3 separate regions of the Homo sapiens genome follow, and regions 2 and 3 are each linked to region 1. Evidence: fine-mapped expression QTL. A gene starts in region 1. Each other region holds a variant in brackets. All regions are shown on one strand. Distances are from middle to middle.

The links.
Region 2: its variant is fine-mapped to the expression of FTO in whole blood (TOPMed, PIP 0.98).
Region 3: its variant is fine-mapped to the expression of FTO in skeletal muscle (GTEx, PIP above 0.99).

What each region holds. Positions count from the first base shown.
Region 1 is chr16:53,703,026-53,705,525 of GRCh38, forward strand. FTO (FTO alpha-ketoglutarate dependent dioxygenase) reads left to right here and starts at 1,131. Exons shown (of 9, transcript NM_001080432.3): 1 at 1,131-1,204. The coding sequence starts at 1,160. It overlaps RPGRIP1L (RPGRIP1 like), which reads right to left and starts at 834. Exons shown (of 27, transcript NM_015272.5): 1 at 778-834. RefSeq lists a silencer at 744-793 and enhancers at 829-1,329, 944-1,353.
Region 2 is chr16:53,838,304-53,841,155 of GRCh38, forward strand. All of the region lies in intron 3 of FTO (FTO alpha-ketoglutarate dependent dioxygenase), which reads left to right. Among named protein-coding and RNA genes, the nearest start is that of FTO, 140 kb to the left of the region's middle. The variant A/T (reference allele first, on the strand shown) is at 1,516.
Region 3 is chr16:53,812,987-53,815,838 of GRCh38, forward strand. All of the region lies in intron 2 of FTO (FTO alpha-ketoglutarate dependent dioxygenase), which reads left to right. Among named protein-coding and RNA genes, the nearest start is that of FTO, 110 kb to the left of the region's middle. The variant A/G (reference allele first, on the strand shown) is at 1,663.

The DNA.
Region 1 (2,500 bases):
TGCGAGGCCGAGACGGGCGGCTGACTTCAGGCCAGGAGTTCGAGACCAGCCTGGCCAACATGATGAAACCCTGTCTCTACTAAAAATACAAAAATTAGCTGGGTGTGGTGGCACACGCCTGTAATCCCAGCTACTCGGGAGGCTGAGGCAGAAGAATCGCTTGAACCTGGGAGGAGGAGTTTGCAGTAAGCTGAGGTCTTACCACTGCACTCCAGCCTGGGCAACGGAGCAAGAACCTGTCACACACACAAAAAAAAGAATAAAGAAAAAATATTTATTGAATGAATAAATGAATATCAGGTACTGAGATTAAAATGGCAAGCAAAACCCCCGCCTTTATGAAGCTAGCAAGTTATGGAGGTAATCACATGATAAACAAATAATATATAATTAAGCAAACAATAGACCACTCAGGAGGTTTAGGGTCTACCAACCAACTCCTAATCCAGGGCAAATGAGCAAACTGTGTTAGGGACCTACAACTTGCAGGATCTGGATAGAGATGGCAATTAGCAGCATCAACTCTCACCTTCATGGCTGGGATATAACATTTCAAATTGGTCCTGGACGTGGGGATAAAGGGCGGCCTGTGATTCAGGCCTGAGGATGTGGAGGTGTCTTGGGCTGGGCTGCTTTCACGCCAGCAGAACTCCAGGGCCAACTCCAGGGCCTTCTCCAGGCGGCAGAGCGGACCCTAGGACCCCGGCCCGCGCTGCAGTGGGGAGGGTCAGCAACCTCCACCCACCCTCATCCTCCCCCATCCTCCCGGGTACTCACCGTGCCACTGGCCCTGCAGCTAGCTACCGTTGCTATAGCGCCGACAGCGTGGCGGGCGGCTGGCCGAGAGGAGCACGGGAGAAACATGGCAGGCTCCCGTAGCCTCCTGGGAAATGTAGTTCTCCTTGGACTCTAGCCTGTTTGCTCGCGGGGTAGCGGACTACGCTCTTCCAGCTGTCGGACCTGGGAAATTCTCCTGTGCTAAATCCCGTGGCGCTCGCGGGTGTCGCCGCGGTGCATCCTGGGAGTTGTAGTTTTTTCTACTCAGAGGGAGAATAGCTCCAGACGGGAGCAGGACGCTGAGAGAACTACATGCAGGAGGCGGGGTCCAGGGCGAGGGATCTACGCAGCTTGCGGTGGCGAAGGCGGCTTTAGTGGCAGCATGAAGCGCACCCCGACTGCCGAGGAACGAGAGCGCGAAGCTAAGGTATGTCGGGCTCCCGGGGCCTGGAGATCTTCGTGCGCTGTGAGCAAGGATCAGGGAACCGGAAGGGCTTGGTTTGATGGCGAGCGGATGCGCGGTGTTAAACTAAGGGATGACAGGGCCTTGTCAGCAAGGGACCTGGAGATATTAGAGGGGATGTTACAAATTCGTGCTCTTCAGGATGCAGGCCGAGTCTTGTTGGATCGGCTCAAAAATGAGAAGCAAGATACCCATTTCCTTGTCCTTCTTCTGCATCTATTCCTTGGTTAAATTTGTCGCCATCCCTGTGCCTCAGTTTACCGGATTCTCAGATGACTGTGATCATACCAGCTGTGCTTTCTCATAATGGTCTCTGAGGACTGAGATCGGCTTAGATGAAATATCTGTGCAGTCAGCTGTGTTTCTTTGGAACAATTGTCTCCGTGACCGGCTGATAACAGTTTGTGTCTTTTAGCGCTGTGGATATGAATCTTTAACTACATTGCTCCTCTCTACCTTTGATGTTCAGCTTCTGGTAGTTGCCATTCCATGGGATGACCATAATAATGGCAACAGAGATTTTAAAAAGCATTTATTGTGGGTCAGGCACTGTATTAAGTGCATAATATTTAAATTATTTCATATCATTGTCACAGCAGATTGCAAGATAGATATTATACAGATGGAGTATAAATAACAGCCCAGCTTCACAGATGAAGAACTGAGGCTCAGAAGCATTGAGTGTTTTCCTTTCTCTCATTCCCAAACTCAGATCCTGTTGATTTGTCTACGTATATTGGGAATATGCCCACTTTTTTTTTTTTTCATCTCCACTACCTTGGACCAAGCTACCATTATCTTTTTAATAGACTGTTGGAATAGCCTATTGATTGGCCTACACTCACTCTACACCCTAACTTAACTCTTCTTCCACCTTCTCTCCCTTCCCTCAACTACCATTCTCTTCTGCACACCATAGAGTAAGATCTTCGTGAAATGCAAATATAATTATGTCCCTTTCCTTTCTCCTTACTCTGCCAACCACCTGTTTAAAAATATTCCATGGCTTTCTGTTGCTCTTAGGATAAAGGCAAAACTTCACATTGCCTACAAGATCCTGCATGATCTGGACCCTACCTGCTTTCACAACCCCATTGGATATGACACTCTGCTCTCTGCCTACCAGTCACTTTGGCCTTCTTAAAAGTCACTCTTCACTATACTTTATCGGGCTTCAGGGCCTTTGCACATGTCATTTGCTGCCTACTCTATGTTAGGCAAATATTGGCAGTGAATAACAGTGTTAAATAACGTAGACAC
Region 2 (2,852 bases), 140 kb after region 1:
CACAAGGGTGGGAATCTTCTTTTTTGAGATGGAGTCTTGCTCTGTCACCCAGGCTAGAGTGCAGTGGCACTATCTTGGCTTACTGCAACCTCTGCCTCCCAGGTTCAAGTGATTCTCCTGCCTCAGCCTTCTGAGTAGCTGGGATTACAGGCATGTGCCACCACACCCGGCTAATTTTTGTATTTTTAGTAGAGACGGGATTTCACCATGTTGGCCAGGCTGGTCTTGAACTCCTGACTTCAAGTGGTCTGCCTGCCTCAGCCTCCCAAAGTGCTGGGATTACAAGTGTGAACCACCACACCAAGCTGAGAATCTTTTGTATCTTAGCTCTTGGCTAAGGAAATAGAAAGTAGAGAATAAGAAATAGGGCTGTTTTTAACAAAAAATTAGCCACGTGTGGTGGCACATGCCTGTAATCCCCACCACTCAGGAGGCTGAGACAGGAGAATCACTTGGACCTGGGAGGTGGAGGTTGCAGTGAGCCAAGATCACGACACTGCACTCCAGCCTGGGCAACAGAGCGAGACTCTAGTCTCAAAAAGAAAGAAAGAGGGCTATTTAAATGTATGGTGATGATGAATATGTACTGAACCTGTGAGGGAAGTTCTTGACATACACTATTATGTATGTTATTAAATATGGTACAAAATTTTTTGTGATATATTTTATTTGAGTATCACTGTAATCTCTACTGTCATACTCTGGCTTCTGTCTTTGTTTCCTGTAGAGCCGTGGTTATAATTAGAAATGTAAACAAAGTATTTTGTGCTTTATTAAATAGAATTTTTTCTCAAAAACTAGCTGGCATAAAACATTGAATGGGTTAATTTTGGGGGGAAGTTTTGGACAATTTAAACTTGACTTTTAAACTTAACAGTCTTTTGTATGTTGTCACATCTTCTACTTATTTAACAGTTTGGTTAGTGGGAGCTGGGAGCTGGGAGTGCACCAAACACACTGAGGTACTTAAAATCTTTTCAATTTTATTGAGGCTTAAAGGCAAGTAAGAACCTGTTGCCTCTGCTTGTTGCCAAAATAACATGGGGCAAGAGTAATCAGTTACAGTTGCTATAGGTAATTACAAGTTGATTTCACTGAGAAGTAAGAACACTATATTTAACAATAAAAAGTTTATCAGACGTGAAACTTTCCTCCTCCCTACACAGCCTAAGGAGGGGAAAAACTCTCACCAAACTATCATTTTACTGAGCAGATTTCAAAGGTGTTGGATTTTTGGGAGACATCGAGAAAGACTAATTGCAATTATTGTCTCTAATTGTCTTTATTGATGCCAGCTTGAGAAGAGTACCAGGATGAAAGTTAGAAGGGAAAGTAGTCAAGCAGACTGTTACCCTATGAAGATTCCCACTTATTAGACTGTCCACACGCAGTGGCATTAAAACTTCATAAAAACTGTTCCTTACAGTTTGAAAATTATTTTTTTCAAGTCATTATAATTGGTTTTCTTTTTTTTTATTTATTTATTTATTTATTTATTTATTTATTTATTTATTT[A/T]TTTTAAGGTGCAGTGTCACTATGTCACCAGGCTGGAGTGCAGTGGCGCGATCTCGGCTCACTGCAACCTCTGCCTCCTGGATTCAAGCGATTCTCCTGCCTCAGCCTCCTGAGTAGCTGGGATTACAGGCACGCACCACCACACCCAGCTAATTTTTGCATTTTTAGTAGAGATGGGGTTTCACCATGTTGGCCAGGATGGTCTCAATCTCCTGACCTCGTGATCCACCCACCTCAGCCTCCCAATGTGCTGGGATTACAGGTGTGAGCCACCACACCTGGGCCTTTTTATTTCTTTTTAATTTTGTGTGGACTTCAATGGTAGAAGTTATAGTTGATTTGACCAGAAAGGGACATGTGAAAAACCTTCCTAAAATATTTCCTTTTTTTTTCTTGTGCTGTTTGCTCTATCTGTAATCATTAGTGCCCCCCTAGAATGAAGCAGCCAAGTCTTGGGTTATCACAAATATAAACATAATTTTTATATCATATTCTTTTGCTAAGGTGATCTGGATATCAATTAATTTAGCATTAATTATTATACTGTATGCTGTCATTAGTCATGTTACATTATTAGGTATTAGTCACATTACATCATAATTATTTTATGCAGCCTCAACTTCTTTACTAAAATGTGCAGTAGACATCAGATCACAAATATCAAGACTTTCGAACAGGTGTTGGCAAATTTTTTTTGTAAAGGGCCAGAAACAAGTACTTTTGGCTTTGTGGGTTTTATAGTCTGTGTCTTATCTACTCAACCTTGCTGTCTGTGTGAAAGCAGCCATTTATGTAAATGAATGGGCATGACTGTGTTCTAGTTAAACTTTATTTTGCAAAAGCAGGTCACGGGACTGATTTGCCTGTGATCTCTGCAACCCAGCTCTTGAGTAAGGGTCACAGACTTTGCTGTGGTTAGGCAGGTACCTCAAATGAGTAAAGTGAAGTGGCTGTGGGGACTGCGACTAGCAAAGGTCACGTCCTTGTCTAAAATGGGCAGCTACTTCTTCCCTATAGCCACTGTGACTGGCTCAGTGATACCAGATCTTGTAATTCAAGGGTAGCTGGGAATTTGGATTTTTAGGCAAAGTCCTTTTATCAGTTGGCAACTCATTTAGATTTGTTAAGGAAATATGGTTGAGGTCAAGCTACACACCTTCGTGAGTTCTTTTCTGGTCCATGAACTCCAGTTTAGCAAATTCTGGTATTTTCAAGTGTAACAGTATATTATGTATGAATAAGAAGTGCCTGTAGAATGTCATCAGACATCGATAGCAACTATCTAATGCTGGTGCTGCCACTCACTAACCCTTGTAGTGCCCATGACAGACATCAGT
Region 3 (2,852 bases), 110 kb after region 1:
AACTGCCAAGCCATTTCAGCTTTTGTCGTGTGAAAATGGTACAGGAAGAATGAGATACAAAAGGTTATCAGCCCACTGTGCTCTGAACCAGCCATCCACTGAGGGATAAAAGGAAACCCAAATGCAAACAGAACAACTATCAAGACTTCTCTGTTATCTTTCCAAGGCCCGCAACAAACCCTGATACTAATATCTAATCACTCTAAGTGCACCTTGCTGTTTTTCTTTTCTTTTTTTTTTTTTGAGACAGCATCTCACTCTGTTGCCCAGGCTGGAGTGCAGTGGTGCAATATCAGCTCACTGCAACCTCTGCCTCCCAGATTCAAGCGATTCTCCTGCCTCAGCCTCCTGAGTAGCTGGGATTACAGGCACCTGCCACCATGCCTGCCTAATTTTTGTAAGTTTAGTAGAGATGGGGTTTCACCATGTTGGCCAGGCTGGTCTCAAACTCCTGACCTCACATTATCCACCTGCCTCGGCCTCCCAAAGTGCTGGGATTAGAGGTGTGAGCCACTGCGCCTGGCCAAAGTACACCTTCTAGGAAGGCTTAGTACTTCAATAAAACCTTAGTAAAAGTAAACCTCTTCTCTTAAAAGATGAAGTGAAAATACTTTTTAATGACATGAGTAAATAGAAAGTTCAGACCTGACACTGGGTCCCTTAAACAGGCCCTCACCACAGGAATGCCAATCCAGCTGCCAGTCATAAACACAGGAGTCTGTTCAGCTTCCATTTTGGGTCTGTCGATTGATCCTTACAGTGTGCTAGGCTTTGTGCTACATGTTTTATGCATGCTCTCACATGCAATCCCCACAACAGCCTCATTCATTGTATTCAGCAACTACTTTTCTTCAGGCTTGAGGTACTTGAGGTAGGTATTTCTGTTTTAGAAATCAAGAGAGGAACCAGGCACAACTGTAAGTTCCACCTACTTGGGAGGCTGAGGTGGGAGGATCATTTGAGCCCAGGAATTGGAGTTCAGCCTGCCTCTCATAACAAGATTAAAAAAGGAGGAAATCAGGAGAGACTAAGTTAGTTATCTGAGTGGGAGAGCTGGAGTTCAGCCCATATTTGTCTGACTCTGAAGGCCCATGCTCTTTCTGCTGTATTGTCCACCTCTTGGTCTACCATGCTCCAATTCAAAACACCTTCAGAGAAGTTTTGCAGTTTCTTTTAATAGGACCGTAGAGAAAAGCAAAACCAAACCACCAAGGGTCAAAGCAGAAAAGCAGAGAGAACTTCTGTTAGCTCATCATGGAACACAAGGAAACGAGGAATTACATAGTCAGAAAACAAACTCTGACTTCCAGAAATATGAATGCAGCCCCTTTTATCCAAAGAAAATGAGACCATCCTCAGTAACCCCCTTGCTGTCACTGATTGTGTGCTAGCTGTGTGCCAGGTTGTTCTGCTGCTACTTTAAGTGCATTACACGTGTGAGCTCACTGAAATCTTGCTATATGCTTCTGAGACAGGTGTTACTAAAACCCTATTTTAGAGATGAGGAAACCGAGGGACAGAGAGGTTCAAAAATTTGTTTAAGACTTATGTGCAGGATATGTTGGGACTAGGATTTAAGTCTGGGCTGTTGGCTTTTGGGTCTCCACTCTTAAGTCCTATACTGCTTCTCTCTTCCCTTGTGTCTCTTCATCCTTCTGAGAT[A/G]ACTCTGCTCTTGTCTCAAAGGTTCCAGACCTCTGTCCCCATCCCAGCTCTCCCTGTGACCTCCAGCTCTCCACTTCCAACTGCCTACGGAGTGGCTCTACCTGAAAGTCTTCCAGCTACATCTAACTCAACATGATTCATATTCATTAAGTTACTTACTCCATTAAACAAATGGATTTCACTCCCCGACTCTGTGCCAGGTACTGTTTTAGGCATTAGAAATGAAGTTGTGAAAACTGACAAGAGATTCGTGTCTTCTTTGAGCTTATTTCTTGTGGGGCAGGTGATGTAGGAGCAAGCCATGTAGATACTTGTTGGAAGAATGTTCTGGGCCTACAGAACAGCAAAGCCTCAGGTATACTTGACAGGAAAAGCACCCGAGGCCAACATACCTGGAGCAGAGGGAGACAGCTGGTGAGAGCAGGGGAGACGGTCAGAGAGAGAGAGAGAGAGAGAGAGAGGCCCGGTTATACGAGAACTTATAGTCTGTAAGTTCTGTAAGAAGAGCATTGGCGGTTACTCTGAGATGAGGAGGCATGAGAAGGCTTGGAGCAAAGCGTGACAGGATGTCACTTACATTTTAATAAGGATTCTTTCTACAAGGCTCTTCCCATTCAGCCTCTTCTCTAACGGTATCCCCTAGTCCCATTCTTGAGATTAGAAAGCTCACCACCCTCAACTTCTATCCATTGCTTTCTTCCCTCATTTAGTCACTGGGTCCCTGGTGGTTTTACCTCTTTAGAATCTCTCAAATTGTTTTTTCTTTTTCCATCCCACAGACACTGCCTCAACTATGTAGGCCACATTGATCACTTTCTGCCTCCGCAGTTTTAGCATCCTCCTGATTAGCGTTCCTCATGCCCTCCCCAGTGCCATCAGAACTGACTTGTACCTCCTTGTTTTATAAATTTTGTTGAGTCGCCTTTGCTTCCAAGATCAAGTTCAAATTCCTCAGCATATCCACCCTATAAGGCCATTGACTTTCTTGTTTTTTTTTTTTTTTTTTTTTTTTTTTTTTGAGACAGAGTCCCGCTCTGTCACCCAGACTGGAATGTAGTGGTGCGGTCTTGGCTCACTGTAACCTCCGCTTCCCAGGTTCAAGCGATTCTCCTGCCTCAGCCTCCCGAATAGCTGGGACTACAGGCGCGCGTCACCATGCCTGGCCAATTTTTGTATTTTTAGTAGAAACA